Linked DNA regions of Homo sapiens: region 1 is linked to region 2. Evidence: fine-mapped expression QTL. A gene starts in region 2. The other region holds a variant in brackets. All regions are shown on one strand. Distances are from middle to middle.

Region 1 (4,383 bases), 75 kb before region 2:
CACAAAGAGATTAGTTAGAATCCAGCTCTGTCATTTACTGGCTGTAAGTGAATTTGGGCAGGTCACTACTCCACTTGAAATGTTTTTCTGTTGCATGCGTAGAACAGTGAGCCCCCCAACACACATCCACACAGTCCTGTTTTTGAGGTCTAGGTAAAATGATATAGATGAAGAGACCTGATAAGCTTTCATACATTTTATTTGATTTTGATTCTAGCTTAAAGCAAAGAAAGAGATTTATTTGTTTTTCTTTGTGTTAGTCAGCAGATCTTTGAAAGTACTTGGGTGACTGGGCGTGGTGGCTCACGCCTGTAATCCTAGCACTTTGCCAGGCCGAGGCAGGCGGATCACCTGAGGTCAGGAGTTCGAGACCAGCCTGGCCAACATGGTGAAACCGGTCTCTACTAAAAATACAAAAATTAGCCAGACATGATAGTGGGTGCCTGTAATCCCAGCTACCCAGGAGGCTGAGGCAGCAGAATTGCTGGAACACGGGAGGTGGAGGCTGCAGTGAGCCAAAATCATGCCACTGCACTCCAGCCTGGGAGACAGAGTGAGACTCTGTCTCAAAAAAAAAAGAAAGAAAGTTCTTGAGTGAGGTTAATTCAAAACCAGAATTTAGTTCTGTTGACCTGGATTTGTCCTCCTTTAAAAAAAAAACAAAACATGAATTATATTAATTTCTTCACATACTCTTGTTAATCTGATTTTAGCTAGAAGCCATTTTAGGAAACTTAATGTAACAAATATTTGCTGAGCAACTATATACTGTGCCCAGCATTTGGGCAGATGTTGGGGAGAGAGCGGTGGAGAGGCAAGCCTGCTGCCTGCCCGCCGGAAGTTACACTCCAGTGGCATGATAGGAATTGTGCTGGGGACACATCACAGACTTTGCAAGGCATCGGGGGAAGTTCTCCTGGCAAAAATGCATAACCCAAGGCTGAGGAGGCGTTAGGTGGCAGGGTGGTGCCAACAGAAGGAACAGCAGCCTCCAAAGGCCCTGAGGCGAGAGAGGGTGGCACTGCCACGGAGCCAAAGGAAAGTTAGTGTGGCTGGAGCTGAGGGAGGGCTGTGGAGATGCAAGACAGGGGCCTGAGCAGGGCCTAGAGGGCCTCAGCACGGAGGAAAAAAGAGGTATGAAATCCAGCCGGATTCTCTGGACTTGTCATGACTCTGGTAAGCAACATCCCTCATGTGTACCGTTCCCCAGAACCTCTCCCAGGAGAAGAATGTGTAAAGACTTTGACCACCCAGGCAGCCATAGAAAGGCAGCTTCCAGAGTCTCCCTCCCACTCCTGCTGGAAGTCCAGGGTGGCCCTGCTGTGGTAAGGCCAAGGTAAAGTCAGAGCAGAGTTACTGAGACTCCACAGTGAGGGACAATCCTGTCACTTTTGAGTTGCGGGGAATTTCTTGATTTGTGGCACTGAAGATTTTCTGCATATTTGGAGCAAAATGCAGCTGAAATAGAATTTGTGACCATTTAACTATTTCCTGCCAAATGATGTATGTTTTGTTTGTGTGGATTATCTCCTCTTGCTAAAGATTTACATCTGTACATCTGTCAGGTGTGATCAGGTGGAAAGTAGAAGAGGAACTGTGTGATTCTCCTCCCTTGGTCTCCTCTTCCCCCTCAGAAATGGCTCCAACATACTAGGCATGGAGAATATTTTGCCTTTGGCTTGAGATGAATGATATCCATGGAAGTTCATGCAATAATGTACCTTTTGACACTTAACTTTAGAAGCTGGGCATGGTGGCATGTGCCTGTGGTCCCAGCTACTCAGGAGGCCAAGACGGGGAGGATCCTTGGGCCCAGGGCTCCAGTCTGGGCAACATAGTGAGACCCATCTCTTAAAAGTATAAACATTAAGTAAGAGGGGATGCTCTTCTACTGAGAGAGGGGACCCCTGGGACTGAGGACAGCGTTCTCACATTCTTACTTCAGGTAAGGCAGATTGCCTAACCAATTGTTCATCACTTTTCTCGCAAGTTCCTCGCATATGACAGCATCTTCCTTCTCTGTTTTTCTAGGCTATTCAGCTTGACCCTGAAGAAACTCGTCATGCTAAAAGAAATGGACAAAGATCTTAACTCAGTGGTCATCGCTGTGAAGCTGCAGGTGAGTGGGGCAGGACTGTTTGTTCAGGGCCCAGGGAAGCTGGATAACCATTTGCCCACTGCTGCGGCTTCAGAAACACTACTGGGACCACCTCTGTCTTCCTCCTCTCAGCACAGCAAGGTGCACAGTGGAAAGATAACAGAGCTCACAGGACCTTCTGAGCCCAGCTCTGCCTCTTGGTTAGGGCACTCAGTTTCTTCAAACCTATCTTTGTCTGAAGAACAGAAATGGTTTTTCCTACACATACTGTGAGGATCAAGTGATATAGATCCTAAAGTGTTTATTGTAAACTACTCAGAAATTACTAGGCTGGCTAGCTTTGGTTTCAGTCTTAGTCCCAGGATTGCTAGATCCAGGTAGATGCACGGGTATGGGAAGCACTTTGGAGGTTTTCTTTTATTTTCTTTTGAGACAGAGTCTCGCTCTGTCACCCAGGCTGGAGTGCAGTGGCGC[G/T]ATCTCGGCTCACTGCAAGCTCCGCCTCCCGGGTTCACGCCATTCTCCTGCCTCAGCCTCCCTTGTAGTTGGGACTACAGGCGCCTGCCACCACGCCCGGCTAATTTTTTTGTATTTTTAGTAGAGACAGGGTTTCACTGTGTTAGCCAGGATGGTCTCGATCTCATGACCTCATGATCCGCTTGCCTCAGCCTCCCAAAGTGCTGGGATTACAGGCGTGAGCCACCGCGCCCAGCCTGCACTTCAGAGGTTTTCTATAGGGTGGAAGAAACTTACAGATTGTTATTTCAGACTTGGCAATTTAAAGTTTACTGGGATATTTTATCTCTATATAAATCCCACTTATAACTCCTTACATTTGGTATATTCAAGGGACCCAAAATATTTCACAAACATTTGTATTCTTAAGTATTCCTGAATTTAAGGAAAAGAGAAGGGAAAAGCTGAATTATAGAAGGGCTCAGGAATTTACCTGTTGCCAGCTAATTACCAAGCGACAGAACTTGGACCAGAAACTAAAGAGTGGGTAATTTGTGTGCTCATTAAATCCCATCACCAGACCTCCCTTAACTGATTAATCCTTTCTGCTGATGACTCCCTGGAGTAGAGTGAGATTCTGCAGTGCCTCTGGAGTCACTAAATAATGACTGGAGTCTTCAGCTTAAGGATGGTGTATTTACTGAATTCTTATTCATTGAAAAATAGCAAACTGTATGATAACTCCCTACTAACCAGAATATTTTATTAGCTAGTTCACCTACTATGCTGCAGTTTATTGTACTATATCACCTTCATTAAAATCCACTTCTATATCACTCTCAGTGTGTGAATCATATATTGAGGTGCCTCGGCCTCTTTCTGGGATAAAGACGTTAGTCCCAAATACATAATTTAGTTCTCAAAACTTAAAATGTTGGGCCGGGCACTGTGGCTCACACCTGTAATCCCAGCACTTTGGGAGGCTGAGGTGGTGGATCACTCAAGGTCAGGAGTTCGAGACCAGCCTGGCCAACATGGTGAAACCCCATCTCTACTAAAAATACAAAAATTAGCCAGGCGTGCATGTAGTTCCAGCTACTCAGGGGGCTGAGGCAGGAGAATTGCTTGAGCCTGGGAGGGAGAGGTTGCAGTGAGCTGAGATTGTGCCACTGCACTCCAGCCTGGGTGACAGAATGAGACTCCATCTCAAAACAACAACAACAAAAACTTAAAATGTTTTAATTACTCATGAATTCCTGTGTGTCCCACCTTATATTCTAATTCCCTGTTCATTTTATGCATAATTCCTTCCAAATCTATGAAATGTTCCCAGACACTGTGTTGGGAAAGCAAGTGTGGGACAGCAATGTGAACTATTAGTGTCTTGTCCTCCTCTCCCGATTTTGGTCCCCATTTCTAGGTCACAGGCAGTGTTCCCGTTTTCAGGAATTGCTTCCTTTGCTAAAGAATGTTGCTGTCCTGTGCCGACACCATTGGGGTGGTTTTGAAAGTTCCCCACTGCGTTTGCCATCCCTGCAGCTAAATGCTTTTGCCAAAGAAATAATTTATTTCCTGATTAAATATTTAAGATTCTATAATTCTAAATTATACCAAAACTACAAATATTTTGAATTTTTAAATTGTTCTACTTCCAAGCAGCTGAAAGTAATTACAGATGTCACCACATTCATTTATTCAGTCACTTATTTATGCATTCATATAATAAATACTTATTGAGCATCTATTATGTGCCAAACATTGTTCTAGGCACAGGGGATACAGCAGTGATCAAAACAGACAAAAATCCCTGCCTTTAAGAAGCGTTGAGCAGT
Region 2 (4,383 bases):
CTGTCCACCTGCAGGATGGCAGTGGCTCCTTGAGGCGCAGCGGTTCCTTTGGGAAACTCCGGGATGCCCTGAGGCGCAGCAGTGAGATGCTGGTAAAGAAGCTGCAGGGGGGCACCCCCCAGGAGCCCCCTAACCCCAGGTGAGCCCCCCACCAAGGTGAGCCTCAAGAACCACCCAGCAACCCCGGATGAGCTCCTGACCCAGAGTGTGCCCCACTGACCCCAGGCAACCTCCCCATCCCTCTCAGGCTCCACCACCCACCAGTCTGTTCCCTCCCCAGCCCCACCCTTCTCCCTGCCCCCATCTCCCGTGAGTTCCTCCTTGGGCAAATCCCAGGCTGTCCTTTTCCCTCAGGATGAAGCGGGCCAGTTCCCTCAACTTCCTCAACAAGAGCGTGGAAGAGCCGACCCAGGTAGGGGCAGGCGGGTGTCTGGGCACTGGGCAGCTGCGGCCGGGGCTGCATGCGTGCTGCCAAGCTTCCCTCCAGCATGCCTCTTCATCCAGCAACAGTTCCTGGCTCTGTCTCAGGCCTACTTTGGGCTGGACAACGGGGAGACACGAGGGGAACCCAGCCTCTCCTGGGGGTGGACGTGTAAACGGCCAGTGCTAACACCGTCACTGTGGAGATGGACGGGAGTGTCAGGGCACCAGGGTGTGGCCTTGGGTCAGAACTGCCATTGCCTCTGCCCAGCTCAGGGATTCCGGCTGCCTCTGCCAGGTCAGACCCCTTCAGGCCAGGGAGGCACAGACTGGCAGCAGCACAGGGCTGAGCCACCTGCCCCCTCTGCCCACAGCCTGGAGGCACAGGTCTCTCTGACAGCCGCACTCTCAGCTCCAGCTCCATGGACCTCTCCCGACGAAGCTCCCTGGTGGGCTAATGCTGAAGGGGCAGCCAGTCACCAGAGCGCCCACCTGGCACACCCCCCTCACCCCAGCCCTGCGCATGGGCCTGCTGCTTGTCCCGCCTGTCTCTCCCACAGCCCCTGTCTTTTCTGTTCAATCTCAGGGTAACCTTCTCCCTTGTCATCTCAGCCTGAGCCCTGGAGGCTGGGCCTGCCCACTCCAGCTCCATCCCTTATTTATTCCTTCCAGCAGGGCCCTCTTCCCTAGGTTCGGGCCAGCAGGAGGTGCCGGCTGGAGTCTCCACCATAGACTCAGTGGCCTGGCCTCCCCAGACCCCAGAGCCAAGAACACTAAGCACTCGCCGGCCCTTCGGCACCCTCGCCCTCCCTCCCGACTCAACCCGGCCGTTGCTTCTGTATATAGAGAAATAAGTTATTGGCCGCGCGCCTCCCTTCAGTCCACGGTACTACCCGGGCCTCCCCTCGTCCCTCTTCTAGTGGTACCGCCCAGGCCTTAATCACCCCCATTCCGTGCGGTGGTATCTCCCAGGCTCTACATTCTCGGGAGCGGCGCCTCCCAAGGGGGTCCTGGGACCTTCTCGCGCTCCTCCTGGCCTCTGAGGGATGCGTCCTACCCGCGCCATCGCCCCGTGGCCCAGGACGGGGACCTCCCCTTAGTCCGTCCTCCCACCGCCGGGCCCTGCCCCGCATCCCGGCCTTATGCACTGCCCCTCCCACCCGGCCCCGCCCAGGCACGGCCGACCCCGCCCCGGGCACCGCCCACCGAGCCATCCTGCCTCGCCTCCCCCCACGCCTGCAGCTTCTCGCGAGGGGCGGCGACGGTCCCCTGGTGGCAGGAGGGGCTCCCCCTGTTGCGGGTGAGGCGGCTGCTCTCATATTTTCAGATGTTGCTGTAGAAATAAAGACGGTTTAAATCTGAGCTGGGCTTGTTTTGAGACGGAGGTCGGGGGCCCCCAGCGTCTCTAGACTGGGGTGGAGCCGGGAAGGGTCGTGCGTGAGTGGGGGACAGTGTGTCTCGCTCAACCGCTGTCCGCGCAGCTGGGCCCAGATATTGTGCCCCACCCCGGAATTGCGTGAGGGGCCCACAAGTCAGGCTTTCCCTAAAACACTCACTTGTGGGGTTCTGGAGACCGCGGGCTCTTATGAGCTCTGCTCCTCACAAAGTTTTTGACCTTGAGTGAGTTTCCCGAGACTCAGTTTTTTCATCTATGAAATGCGGGTGATGACGCGCGGCTGCGAGTTAGGACTGCCCAGTACACGAAGAACCCTGGACAAATGTACTTTTATTAGTCTTACTAGAACCCACATTCTCATTTAATGTTCACAACGTGGGTATTGGGAGGGCAAGGATGACTACCTCCGTCAGACAGATGTGAAACGTGCCAAGCCCAGCCCTAAATTGAGCTTTCTAAACACCGAGTCGCGGTCAGGCTTTCCAGCACTGTCCTCAAGCCTGAGTGCGTCCGGAGTGCAAACTACAAGCCCCAGAAGGCAATGCGCCAGCAGTGATGGGAGTGGGCGCGGAGGCGCGGGCTCCCCGACTACGCCTGCGCAGCGGGGCTGAGTTGGAGAACGTCTTAGACTACAAGTTCCGGGAATCAGCGCGGCGAGGCCTGAGAAGAAGACGTTTGCGCCTGCGCGTCGCGGGCGGGGCCTCTGGGGCGGAGCGGCCACCATCTTGGAACGGGAGGCGGAGCAGAGTCGACTGGGAGCGACCGAGCGGGCCGCCGCCGCCGCCATGAACCCCGAATAGTGAGTGAGCCCCGCCCGCGCCGTCCAGCGCAGCCTCGATCCCGAATACAGGGCTGTACGCTTACCGGGGTTGTCTGGCCCGGGTCAGGACTGTGCGGCGCCCCCACATCCGGGTCCCTCTTCCGCTGACCCCCCCCCACATCCGGGTTCTGCCCCTCCCCCCAGGGGCCCCAGGACCCCGGCTCAAAACCCCGAGCCCTCGCACCCGGGGCCCAGACGTGGCGACCCCCAGGGGCAGCTCTTGGAGCTCGAGACATCGGTCCTACCAGGCCTTATCGGTCAGATGACCCCGCAGTCCCGGTCACTTCAGGCCTCAGTTTCCCCACCTGCTGCTTGACAACTGTCCCGGAGTTTTGGAGCCCGTCTTGATAGTTTCTGGTCTCGGGTTCAGGCTTGGGCCCTTTAGGTCGGGCAGTGAATCCCTCTACCCTTCTCTTTCTCCTGAAGCCCGGCTCCTGGGGCCGGCCCAGAAGCTAGCCAACTACGCGGGAGGCCCCGAAGCGCCGCTTGGGTCGCGTCTCCCGCAGGTCCTCTCTTCCGGGGCTGCCTCCTACCCTTTGCCTGGGTCGCGCTGTCCTGTCGCTCCCGCCGGTCCGTCCTTTCCCGCCCTCTCCTCGCTTTTGCTCAGGCCCCCAACGCCACCGTCACACCCCTTCCCTTGGCTGTCACACTGCCTGTGAAGTTTAGATGAATATGGAATTTGCTCTCCCCCTTCCTGTGGGATTCTCTGGTCCTCAAACTCTCCTCACTCTTGGTCACTCCCCCTGCGGGTAGGTGGCCCACATCTCATGCCCAGGACTAATAGTTTTCCCCAAGTATCAGTTATCTTCTTCCTTTTCTGCCACTTCCTTTTTCTACTCCACATCCAGGTCTCAGATTTCCTTGGGGAAGGGTGAAGCTCTGAGCTGGATTGGGAGGGGAACAGAGAAGGGAACCAGCAGGCTCTCGAAGGGACTTTGGAGTCTGAGAAACCTGGTTTGAGTCTTAAAGCGATAAACTGTGTAAGTTAGGGCAAGTCACTTCCCTTCTCTGGCCTCTGGTTTCCTCATTAGTTGACAATGACAAAACTGACTTCATTGAACTGTTGTGAAGATTAAATGAGATGATGCATTTAAAGTACTTCACACAGGGTCCGTCCACAGGTTGGAACTCAAGTATATTAAATGTGATTACCTTTTGCCTTTTTTTTTTTTTATTTTGAGACAGGGTCTCTCTCTGTCACCCAGGCTGGAGTGCAGTGGCGTGACGATGGCTCACTGCAGTCTCCAACTCTTGGGCTGAAGCAGTCCTCCTGCCTTGTCCTCCTGAGTAGCTGGGAATACAGAGGCACACCACCACACCTGGCACATTTTTTAATTTTTTGTAAAGACAGGGTCTCGATATGTTTCCCAGCCTGATCTCAAACTCCTGGGCTTAAATGATTCTCGTGCCTCGGGCTTCCAAAGTGTTGGGATTACAGGTGTCAGTCACTGCACCCAGCCTTAAGTGCAATTTTCACTGCAACTTGACCACCTCTTCCTGGTGACTTCATAACAGGTTTTTGTTGTTGTTGTTGTTGTTGTTGTTGTTGTTGTTGTTGTTGTTGTCTCCAAAGAGATGGGGTTAGCCGGGTGCGGTGGCTCAGGCCTGTAATCCCAGGACTTTGGGAGGCCGAGGTGGGTGGATCACGAGGTCAGGAGATCGAGACCATCCTGGCCAACATGGTGAAATCCCGTCTCTACTAAAAATACAAAAATTAGCTAGTCATGGTGGCGCATGCCTGTAATCC

What was found. PIP is the estimated chance that this variant, and not a neighbour inherited with it, causes the effect.
Region 1: its variant is the best candidate, but not a certain one, in a credible set for the expression of RAB1B in whole blood (INTERVAL, PIP 0.79).

What each region holds. Positions count from the first base shown.
Region 1 is chr11:66,191,455-66,195,837 of GRCh38, forward strand. It overlaps PACS1 (phosphofurin acidic cluster sorting protein 1), which reads left to right. Exons shown (of 24, transcript NM_018026.4): 2 at 2,032-2,119. Among named protein-coding and RNA genes, the nearest start is that of KLC2, 64 kb to the right of the region's middle. The variant G/T (reference allele first, on the strand shown) is at 2,573.
Region 2 is chr11:66,266,079-66,270,461 of GRCh38, forward strand. It overlaps RAB1B (RAB1B, member RAS oncogene family), which reads left to right and starts at 2,561. Exons shown (of 6, transcript NM_030981.3): 1 at 2,561-2,615. The coding sequence starts at 2,602. KLC2 (kinesin light chain 2) reads left to right here. Exons shown (of 16, transcript NM_001318734.2): 14 at 15-139; 15 at 355-412; 16 at 795-1,782. The coding sequence ends at 878. KLC2-AS2 (KLC2 antisense RNA 2) reads right to left here and starts at 2,333. Exons shown (of 3, transcript NR_186342.1): 1 at 2,221-2,333; 2 at 1,977-2,130; 3 at 1,471-1,753. RefSeq lists enhancers at 131-1,013, 1,770-1,819, 2,120-2,169, 2,290-2,619, 2,780-3,661 and silencers at 1,270-1,319, 1,340-1,659.